Linked DNA regions of Homo sapiens. The protein of the gene in region 1 interacts with the protein of each later gene in a pairwise test. Each region holds a gene or a part of one and is shown on either strand. Other genes may lie near its edges.

What was found.
Region 2: the proteins of HUNK (region 1) and SH2B1 interact in a two-hybrid assay, tested with the Homo sapiens proteins (one large-scale study listed by BioGRID and IntAct).
Region 3: the proteins of HUNK (region 1) and AKR1C3 interact in a two-hybrid assay, tested with the Homo sapiens proteins (one large-scale study listed by BioGRID and IntAct).

What each region holds. Positions count from the first base shown.
Region 1 is NC_000021.9:31,875,970-31,879,621, reverse strand, and holds part of HUNK (hormonally up-regulated neu tumor-associated kinase), read right to left. Parts: intron 1-3,652.
Region 2 is NC_000016.10:28,866,745-28,870,396, reverse strand, and holds part of SH2B1 (SH2B adapter protein 1), read right to left. Parts: coding exon 3,364-3,652; intron 3,067-3,363; coding exon 2,965-3,066; intron 1,392-2,964; coding exon 1,300-1,391; intron 1,190-1,299; coding exon 1,014-1,189; intron 1-1,013. UniProt on the Homo sapiens protein: Adapter protein for several members of the tyrosine kinase receptor family.
Region 3 is NC_000010.11:5,092,776-5,096,527, reverse strand, and holds the start of AKR1C3 (aldo-keto reductase family 1 member C3), read right to left. Parts: upstream 2,115-3,752; 5' UTR 2,084-2,114; coding exon 2,000-2,083; intron 119-1,999; coding exon 1-118. UniProt on the Homo sapiens protein: Cytosolic aldo-keto reductase that catalyzes the NADH and NADPH-dependent reduction of ketosteroids to hydroxysteroids.

The DNA.
Region 1 (3,652 bases):
TATGCACGGGTAGCTATAGCCGTGACTCAACACCTGCAGAGAAAATGTAGGGTTGTACTCCTCTCCGTGGGCACCGTTTCTGCACTGTTGCGCTGACTCAAAGCACCCTTTGAAGTCCGTGGGACCTGTATCAATGAACACTAGGAACCAGGCCCTACGTGCCAATTTCCATCATTCACAAGTACTTCAAAAAGATGAGGCAGGGCAGGAAGTTCAAAAGAATCCGCCTGCAACTGCAGAATGCAATCCTCGAAATTACAGGCACTGCCTTGTCACACAGGGCTCACCAAGCAGGTGCTTTGCAAATGCCTCCTTCTTGCCAAGAAGTCCCTGCCAAGGATTAATAGGAATTTCCAGTTCTCTAAGCATTTCTTGTTCCTCAGAGCGATTACCCCTAAACTTCTAGCACTTCAAAAATACAGGATTTAGCACCTGTTTGTTTCAGAAATACTTGCTAAAAACAGATCTGCCAAAAGGCCACCTCTAAAATTAGTCATATTTCTTGCTCTGCAAAACATAGTAAATCGTATTTTTAGTAACTCCTTCACTCCAGGTATCTGGCACTGTCATGCTCTAAGCATGATTACTGGCAACTTAGTAAGCAGGCAACCCTTACTCTTAGCCTAAAAATAGTTCTGATGGAAGTGACAAGCCGGCTTATTATTCTTTAACCAAGGGTTAGAACAAGATATTTCAACATCTTAACCAATCATTTTATGTACTCAACTTTGTATCTCAGTGAGACTCAATCACAAAAAAGGTAACAGTGGCATGGACTGTCTGTTCTTGTTCTGTAGTTTGCCTGCCTACAACACTGGCTCAATACCTGAGATACACCTACTCTTTTCTCGATTCAGCTTTTCCAACTATATTTTTTCAACTTTTATCAATTTTTTACAAAACACAATAACCTGTCATGTGCCAGAGACCATGCCTCTTGTAGGTATCACGAACCATCACCAGGGTTCAAGCAATTCTCATGTGTCAGCCACCCAAGTAGCTGGGACTACAGGTGTGCACCACCACACCCAGCTAATTTTTGTGTTTTTAGTAGAGATGGGGTTTCTCCATGTTGGCCAGGCTGGTCTCAAACTCCTGACCTCAAATGATCCACCCACTTCGGCCTCCCAAAGTGCTGGGATTACAGGCATGAGCCACCGCGTCCAGCCACTAAACCAAACTTCTAAGGAATTATCCAAATATATTGCTGATGATAAAGGACCATTGTTTTACTGATTCCTTACAAACATTATTTATAATGTCTGTATTAGAAACATTATACGTGGTTTCTAAGTTGCTTCATTTAAAGTTTAACGTTTATGGAAATTTAAAATCTTAAACTCTTTTTTTTTTTTTTTTTTTTGAGATGGAGTCTCATTCTGTCACCCAGGCTGGAGTGCAGTGGCACAATCTAGGCTCACTGCAACCTCCACCTCCCACATTCAAGCGATTCTCCTGCTGCAGCCTCCAAAGTAGCTGGGATTACAGGTATGCACCACCACACCTGGCTAATTTTTGCATTTTTATTAGAGACAGGGTTTCACCATGTTGGCCAGGCTGATCTAGAACTCCTGACCTCAAGTGATCCACCCACCTTGGCCTCCCAAAGTGCTGGGATTACAGGCATGAGCCACCACGTCTGTCCTGTTTCTGGACCTCACTTCAATTTTCTGTAAGTCACTTTCCTTATTCTGTCGACAGATGATATTATCTGATCATGCAGCAGCCCCCAAGTCACTCTGTCTGGTTGGGGGCCAGGGCGGGGGGCACTTGTTATGTGCCAGAGACCACGCCTCTCATAGGTATCACAAATCAATACCAGGCTCTGCAAGCACAACCACTCCAGGTGTTTCAAAGTCATTACCCCATACTGTTGCTCAACAGCTTTGCTCTTCGTCTCAAAGCCAGAGAGTGGTACTTTTCAGAATCTGGTTTTGTGATCATTTTCCCTGGTCTAATCATCAACTTTGGTCAAAGACACTCAGCCCTGACTGTGAAGGTACCTATTAAGAGTTTCACATGGCCAAGTGAACTATTTATTTTTAAAGCCAGATTAACAGAGATTGCATTAACTCAAAGGAGGACACAATTAGGTCTCAGCCGCAAGCCATCTTTCCTTTACAAGCAGTAAAAGAGCCATCTAGATTCAAATGGCTTCTAAACAAACAACTTCAGAGGAAAAGCAGGCAAAAGATTGTCCTACAGGCAGTGGTGGCAAAAGCAGCCTCTTGATGAGATCAAATTGAAACCTAAAAGGAAAGTTGGGAAAAACTGGCTCCCTTTGTCATCTGGACTCAGACAGTGATTCCCAGCAAACCATGAAGGATTTCACCCAAAGCTTTTTGGAAGTGTAACCAAGTCGAAACACAACACGCTACACACACACACACACCCCCATACCAAATGCCTTCAACTAGCAATGCCCTAGATTTTAGCACAAATCACCCAAAACTAATTCTCACAGTTTGAGAATGCAGCTATGAAGCAGGCCAAACTTGGGGTGCCCTCTCAACTTCTGTTTCCCTATGCCCTCTTTCAGCTTTTTCATGGACTGATTTCCCAAGACAAGCTGCCCTGAATCCTTTCGCTCCACGTGGGCTGGGAGTACTTCTCACTACAGTATTAATGACTTCATTCCCCTCCTAATGTGGAATGGATCCTTTATAAAAGGATGGGCCAGGTGCAGTGGCTCACATCTGTAATTGTAGCACTTTGGGAGGCCAAGGTGGGAGGATCACTTGAGGCCAGGAGTTGGAGACCAGCCTGAGCAACACAGTGAGACCCCTGTCTTTATAAAAAATTTAAAAAATAAATAGATAGGACAGGAGAAAAGTGAAATTCTAAATCCAAAATGTACACACCCCAAGAAAAGAGGAATTAATGAGGGAGAGAGGCCTCCCTGGGTCACCCACAGTGGGGGACACTGGAGGCTTAATGACCTCCTTTTCCTCAGCTCTGCTCACTGGAGGAAACTTTCCCCAGGCCAAAATCATCTTAGTAGCTCACCTTTTAAAAGAACTTCAGGTTGTAAATAGCCTGAGGCTGTGGTCATCTTTGTTTTGGCCTTAGTTAGGCAATACCCAAAACTAGAGTGGGAATGAGGACTCATTTTAATTTAGCAATCTTTCTCAGAGTCAAGCATACACACACAACCATTTTAATCCCCACAATCTGCTAAAACCCAAATCTATTAGTTAAGCATTAAAGGTGCTGGATTTGGGAGATAAATGTTATGAATGACACCATTGTTTCTTTAAAGCCAGCAATTGAGTGAACTAAAATCCAGATTTCTCCCAATGCCCGCAATCCCTGGAGCACTGATTCTCCCCGCTGGGGAGGAGCATCCCGGGAAAACCAAGTTTTTCAACACAGACATCTCTCCCCTGCCTCCTTCTCCACCCAAAGAACCACCATCCTTACCCGCAGTCCACCAATGGGTCCAGGGGAATAATTTTACATCCAATTAACATCTCCTGTCATTGCAACAATGAAGTGAGATTCATCATTTAAGAAACATAAGATGGGAGGGAAGGGGAGTGGGCACCTGGGGAAGCAGCGAGTCTCTTCATGTGAATCCTATTTGGGCAAGAATTCCCTGCATGTCGGGGTTCCCAGTGGGCCCAGCACAGAGCTCCAGAACCCAAGCGCTGGC
Region 2 (3,652 bases), on another chromosome or scaffold:
AGTCCCTGTCTCTCCCACCTTCCCCTGCTCTCTTCCTCCTGAGCTCCCAACGTGATTCCTGCTTGTGCTGCTCAGGGGACACTAAGCTTTCTATAGGGAGTGATGTCAACCCAGCTGAAAGCCTCTAGAGAACAAGGAGCTCATCTCAGGCATCCTAGCTACCCCATCCTGGCCCGGGACACAGAGCAGGGCCAGGTATGCACTAGGGCCATCCTCCAAGTCTGTCCAACAGCAGGCCACTGCCTACACAAATGTCATAGGCAGGCAGTGCTCAGAAGACAGGCGTGTGGTGCACAGACAGCATGGCTTGGGAAACAGGGTGGCGCAGCCCCTGTCTTCCTCAGTGACCCTCAGGTGTCCTCTCCCTGGTCTTAGCTACTAAGATCTGATGAGATGCAAGGTCCACTCTAGATCTAAGATTCCATGATTCATGTGTTCATTCACTGAATACAGCCTGTGTGCTAGGCACTGTGCAGCTGGAACTCAGAACAGAGGGTCAGGAGAAAAGGCTATAGTGGAGGCCGAATCTAGAAATATGAGTTGGGACTGGGTGACACATCTTTGTGTGTTTGTGTGTGTGGGTCGGGTATGTGTGTTTGGTCAGACCAAAAAGTACAGAGTCAAGAGAAAACGTGATTGCCCCTGACAGACACAGAGATGCAGAGTAAGAACAAAACAAAGATTTCTACAAAGTGTTCCAGAAGCTTGGAGAAAACCACCATTATTTCCAGCCAGAGCGGTGGCTGGCAGGACGCTGACTGAAAAAGTGGCGAGGCTGGGTGCAGAAGCCTGGCTAAGGTTTGCTTGGGGCCTGCGTGGGGTCATGATTATTCTAAACAGCAAACTGTGGCTGTGTTCAGGGATCAAAGACCAACATTTGGTGGGGTTGGGGTAGGGCATCTGGAAAACAGGGATGGGGGCACAGTGGCGTCTGGAGAGGGCATGGCGCCTGACAGCAGGGGCCCCGCATGGCAGGTTCCGAGGCTCCGAGCTCTCTAAGGCTCCACCCTTACCCTGCGACAGGCGGTCATTGCTCTCGCTGGGTCCAAGCAGCAGGTCCTGGCTGGGTAGACTCTCCGAGTGATTCAGGCAGGACAGCTCCAGGCTGTCTGTGTTCTCCCTTGTAAGGAATGAGGTCCCAGGGGCCAGAGGGAGGGTCATGGGGCGGGGACTGGTAGCAGGGCAGGGTCTGCAGAGACAGGGAAGATGGTGCTGGGAGGAAAGTCACCAGGTGAGAGGCGCAAGGCTGCTCCCCAACCCCACTCTATGTCCCTTAGCGACAGAAGTCAGGCTTCTCACCCTGGGCTCAGGCATTCTTGGATGTCAGACACCCAGGCCTTCACATGCTGGGCATCCACTGTCTCCATGATATACTCGGATGGACCTTCCACCTACAGAGATGAGACGACGCCTCAGCTGGGGCAGGGGCAGGGAGGAGGCTTAATCCATGCCTAATGAGAACAATGTATGCAGGCTGTCTACAAACAAGATGCATTCGAATTCTCTCTGGAGGCCGGGTACAGAGGCTCACACCTGTAATCCCAGCACCTCTGGAGGATCACTTGAGCCCAGGAGTTGGACCAGTCTGGGCAACATAGTGAGAACCTGTCTCTAAAAAAATTGAAAAATAAAATAAGGCGAGGCCGGGTACGATGGCTCACACCTGTAATCCCAGCACTTTGAGAGGCCAAGGAGGGTGGATCACAAGGTCAAGAGTTCGAGACCAACATGACCAATGTGGTGAAACCCTGTCTCTACTAAAAACAAAAATTAGCCAGGCGTGGTGGCAGGCGCCTGTAGTCCCAGCTACTCGAGAGGCTGAGACAGGAGAATCGCTTGAACCCGGGAGGCGGAGGTTGCAGTGAGCCAAGATCATGCCACTTCAACTCCAGCCTGGGAGACAGAGTAAAATGCCGTCTCAAAAATATAAAAAATAAAAATAAAATAAAATAAAATAGGCCAGGCGCAGTGGCTCACGCCTATAATCCCAGCACTTTGGGAGGCTGAGGCGGGCAAATCACGAGGTCAGGAGATCGAGACCATCCTAGCTAACTTGGTGAAACCCCGTCTCTACTAAAAATACAAAAAAATTATCCGGGCGTGGTGGCGGACGCCAGTAGTCCCAGCTACTCGGGAGGCTGAGGCAGGAAAATGGCATGAACCCGGGAGGTGGAGCTTGCAGTGAGTCGAGATCGCGCCACTGCACTCCAGCCTGGGCGACAGAGCGAGACTCTGTCTCAAAAAAAATAAATAAATAATAAAATAAAATAAGGCCAGGCACAGTGGCTCACGCCTGTGATCCCAACACTTTGGGAGGCCAAGTGGGGTGGATCACTTGAGGCCAGTTTGAGACCAGCCTGCCGAACATGGCAAAACCCATTTCTGCTAAACATACAAAAAATTAGCTGGGCATAGTGGTGCATGCCTGTAATCCCAACTACTCAGGAGGCTGAGGCACAAGAATCGCTTGAACCTGGGAGGCAGAGGTTGCAGTGAGCCAAGATCGCGCCGCTGCACTCCAGCCTGTGCGGCAGAGCAAGGCTCTATCTCAAATGTAAGTAAGTAACAAAATTAGCCAGGCATGGTGTCACATGCCTGTAGTCCCAGCTCCTTAGAGGGCTGAGGCAGGACGATCACTTGAGCCCAGGAGTTCGAGGCTACACGAGGCTACAGTGAGCTATGATCAGGTTGCTGCACTCCTGACTTAGAGGGAGACCCTGTCTCTCTAAAACAACCACAACAACAAAAACTCCACAGTTCTCTTTCAAGTGGAGGCATTGTTTTTGAGAGTAAGAACATTTCCCTGTCTTCCGCTATCCCAGAAAAGCTGCAGCCCCAGGGACACACTCTCAAGGCACTGGACACATATATATACCTCCTTTCGGCGACGCCACTTGCTTAAATGCGCTGAGGGCTTTCTCCTTAACACAAGCACTGCCGGCGGCTGGGAAGTTGAATTCCTACCTTAACCACAAACGTGTTCTCCCGGTCAGGCATCTCCAGGGCTGTGGTTGTCCGGACGTCTGTGATAGAAGAGCAGGGGATGCTGAGTCGGGGCCGAGAGGCCTAAGTCAGGAGAAAGAAACAGATCTGGGTGTTTGGTTTCCAAAGACCACTCTTCCCCTCCCTCCAGACATTCATCTTTCCTTCTACATCCTCGGGAAGTTAGACAAAAGGCAGTCACACTGCTTTCTCAGTCCTGCCCGCAGCTGCTAACACAGAGCCAAGAGCCAGCTTTACCAACAAAAAGTGAGCGACACCAGGGCCATGGGCTGGTAAACCCCAGAGCTTATCTGCAGGGCTGTGACCACTCTGAGCACTCTCTCACTTGCTCTCAGTCACCCACCCTCCAAGGGGCCTCACCTTGGGTGGTACAAAGAACTCCAGGCGACTTCCTCCTCCTCCTTCTCCTTCACTTCGAAGCAGCAGGCGACACTTCTGCCACTGAGGCTGCCCTCCTCCCCCTGAAGGAGGCCCAGCCACCCCTCCTCCCCGGCCCACTCCGGCTGGGTCAGGGGCTGCCTCCTCAGCCCCCATGAAACTCAGCAGCTCTTCCCTCTGCACCATCCCTGCTCCATCCTTCAAGGCGCCCCCTCCCCGACTGAGTCTCAGCCTCTCAAAACGGTGAGTCCATCTTTCCCCAGGGGACGTT
Region 3 (3,752 bases), on another chromosome or scaffold:
TGCTTCGGATGGCCAGTCCAACCTGCTCCTCATTATTGTATAAATGAGCAGAATCTATATGGCGGAACCCAGCTTCTATTGCTAATTTTGTGACCTCCAAAGCTTTACTTCTCGGAACCTGGAGGAGCAACCAAAGGTAGTATCTGGTGATCACTGTGGCTGAGAGGTAGTTCAGGCACAAGCATTGACTTTTATACAAGAATCAGCTTTTCCTCCTGTCTGTATGTGGGGTGAAAAGTCCATCTCAGTTTGCCTGAGTCTTTCCTGGTTAGTAATAAAGGTTGAGCATCCCAGAAACACCTTCAGTCTCAGGCAATCTCTGGTTGATCACTGTTATGGAGGTACCAAATAACACCCTCAGATTCAGTGATTTGTTGGAAAAGTTAACATGACTGAAATAGTCCTAATTATTTTTAATATAGTGATATTATACATGGTAAAAATCACATGGAGTATAGAAGGGAAACGGTGCAAGCTCATATGAGTTCTCTCCCAGTGATATTACACAGAATGCTCACTCAGACTTCCTCCAACATCGTATTTGGGAAATGCTGTCTACAAGAGATGTTCTTTGGTGTCTCAGTTCTTGAGATTTTGACTGGATGCTAGTTACATCGACCCAACTAGGGTTCACTTGGGAAATAAAGCATCTGTGAATAGTAGTCTATTAAGTCTTTTCTGCATAGTCATTCTGGCTACACAACAGAACTGAACACTAGGGGTAAAGATGTATACTCTGAGGATATCGATTTGTACATTAAAAATTCACTGAAATCTGTTAAGAATTTACTAAGGTACAGTTCTGCCATAAAAAATAAGGCTATCTCTTTCAGGAAAGACAGAATTCCAGTGAAATTTAAAATTACTGACTTATTGACCAAATTTGGATAAAGATTTGAAAGGTATTTTTTAATGACAAAAATATAAATAAACTGTTTTCATTTTTACATGTATTTAAAGAAGCTTTCTTGTTTCGTTGAAATTACAAGGAACTAGATAACGGTCTCCCCGCCATCTCCTGAGAACAGTCTTTTTTTTTTTTTTTAAATCTTTTTTGAGAGCAGTCTTTAAGTGTGCCAACACTCAAAGGTTTACCAAGGCTGGAGCTTCAGTTGTGTCGTTATTTTCATTTCCTGCCCATGCCAATTTATATTAAAAATTAAACCACTTTTGTCACTGGTCTAGAAAATGTATCCTTGTAGATCATCACAACTTATCGATAAAGTGAGAGACTCAAATTTCAATAATTAGTTCCTATTCACACACTTAGTAGCCTGAGGACAGTCTTGGAATACAAGTTCTATCTAGAAAATGAGGTCTCCATTTTGTTCATTTTTGTGTCAGAAGACCACTCCTACCACTTTGATACAAATATGATGCATACAAAAAAGGACTAAGAATTTAGACTTTCCTTTGTTAGGTTCTAGATTTTACTTAAAATGAGGTGGTATTTTTTTCTTTCAGGAAGTTCTTTTTAAAAGTGAAATAGTACAGTGGAAACTCTAGTCCAGGTCCGGTAATACTGGGTGGCACTCACTGCCGCCCATCAGAACAGTGATACTCTGCCGACAGTTTTGTGCACACCATATCCAGTAATTTTTGCTATAAGTATTTCTCTGGATCGTATGTTCTTGGAAGATGGAAAGATTTCTTCAGTTGTAGAAACAGAGAAATCACTCCTATTGCAATTAATCTCCACCAGAGGGAGATGACCAACAGTGTTCTTCAATACTGAGTTTTACATATTCTGCCAAGCTGGGAACTAGACATGAACAGAAGAAAGAAACAGTGCACAAACGAAAAATAAGCAGTACGTGACCATAGGAATGGACCTCAATGCAGAACAAGGATTGCCTACTTTTTTCTCCTAGCCTAGGAAACCTAGACCAGTGAGTCATCCAGAGTAAGGTAGGAACACGAACCTTACAACCCAATACGGGTTTCACTTCTACTAGGTTTATTCTTTTGAAATCCGAAAACTAAAAGGAATTATTCTTACCTCTGGAGGTGCATAGGTGCCAAATCCCAATACAGGCATGAAGTGGCCATCATTTAGCTTTACACACTGGTGTTTGGAATCCATTCCCTGTCACTTGTCTGACTAGCAAATGTTTGCTGCTGCTTCTCCTCAGAGATTACAAAAACAATGGGCAGGAAACCCCTCCCCCCACCCCTGCAAACTGACTGATGGTTAACCAATGGCATGTAGGAGGAGGTACATAGGCAGTCTTATATGGTCTGTGGAGAAAATTGCATTCAGTTCATTTGTTTCTTATCAAAGAGAATTCCTAAGTAAATTATTATAATATATGGTTATAATAAACTCATTAATTTCTATCTAAAGTATTATTTTCTATTCTAAATCTCTATATTAAATTATTCAAAAGGATTTGTAGAACAAATAGCAACCATATGTTAGACTATAAAAACCTCCAGCTACAAATATCTTTTTTCGTTTCTGCCGTGATAATGCCCCTTCTTTATACTGCATCATTTGAAATAATTAACCATCTTACGTCTTTCTCTCACATACACATAATTTAAAGGAATGACTAATGAGAATTTTTCAAATAGTTGGTCCTCAATAAAAAATTAAAGTTAAAACTGTAAAAATATTTGCCTTTTTACATTTTCAATCAGAAAATTTATTTTGATTTTTCTTTCTTTGCGTTGTAAGAGAAATATTCATTTCTGAAGAAGATGCAGTCCTGATAAAGCTGTAATCCTGATGAGGGTGCAAATAAAAAGAAATTCTGGTGTAGTTTTTATTGGAGTGTTAATTATTAACAGTTTTTGGAGTTTGGACATCATTTAATATATGCAAGCAGTGCCTTAATAGTATTTGTTCTTCAACCAGGTTTATTACAGACTATCAAGAAGTAACTAGCCAAAAAACTGATAACCATTTTATATAATCTGTCATCTTGTTAAACATTATTTGTAAGGAAAAACTGGAAATTAATTACATATAAATGGATGAATAATTCTCATGTGGGATAGTTTTCACTTGTTCCTTCCTTTGGAGGGCAGATTAGAACATGATGAATGTAGTTTGCACAATACATTATCAACATCTTGGAGTTGTCAGAACTTGCAATGCCCTGATTTCGTTCTATTTACTTTTCCTCAAATAATAACCAAAAAGTAAGTTGAGAAATAAGTTAATTATTATACATTGATACAATATAATATAAAATCATTGAAAGCTTTTACAGAGTGATTTCAGCAATATGGTGGATCAAAAGGCCCCTACTTGTCTCATGGACGCGTCAAGAAGTGATCTGAAATTGACTAAAATAAACTTATTTATTTATGGGGGTGCTGAGTAGAAATGTAGTATGATGCCAAGGGCAAGAGATTAGGGGAAGAGACGTGCAATAGTCCGTCTAACCCATTGAGGGGAAGCTGGGGTGTGAATTTTTGAAATAGTAAGCTATTCAAAAGCCAGTAGGTATTTGGGGGAACTACTAATGGGCACACACAGTCCAGGCAGATACAAGTTCAGAAAATTGCTGACAAGGCCTTAGGGTTTTATGTTGGGCTTATGCTAAGACTAAGAACATACCAAGCATATTAGTTGATAATCGTCATGACACAGAACAAATCTATATAGAGTTAGAAAAATGTCTATATTTTGAAATGCTCAAATAAAATAATAAGGTATATAAAGAAACAGGAAAACACAGTCCCTTATAAGAAAGAAAACGAGTTGACAGAAATTATTTTTGAAGAACCATGAGCACTGAAATTAG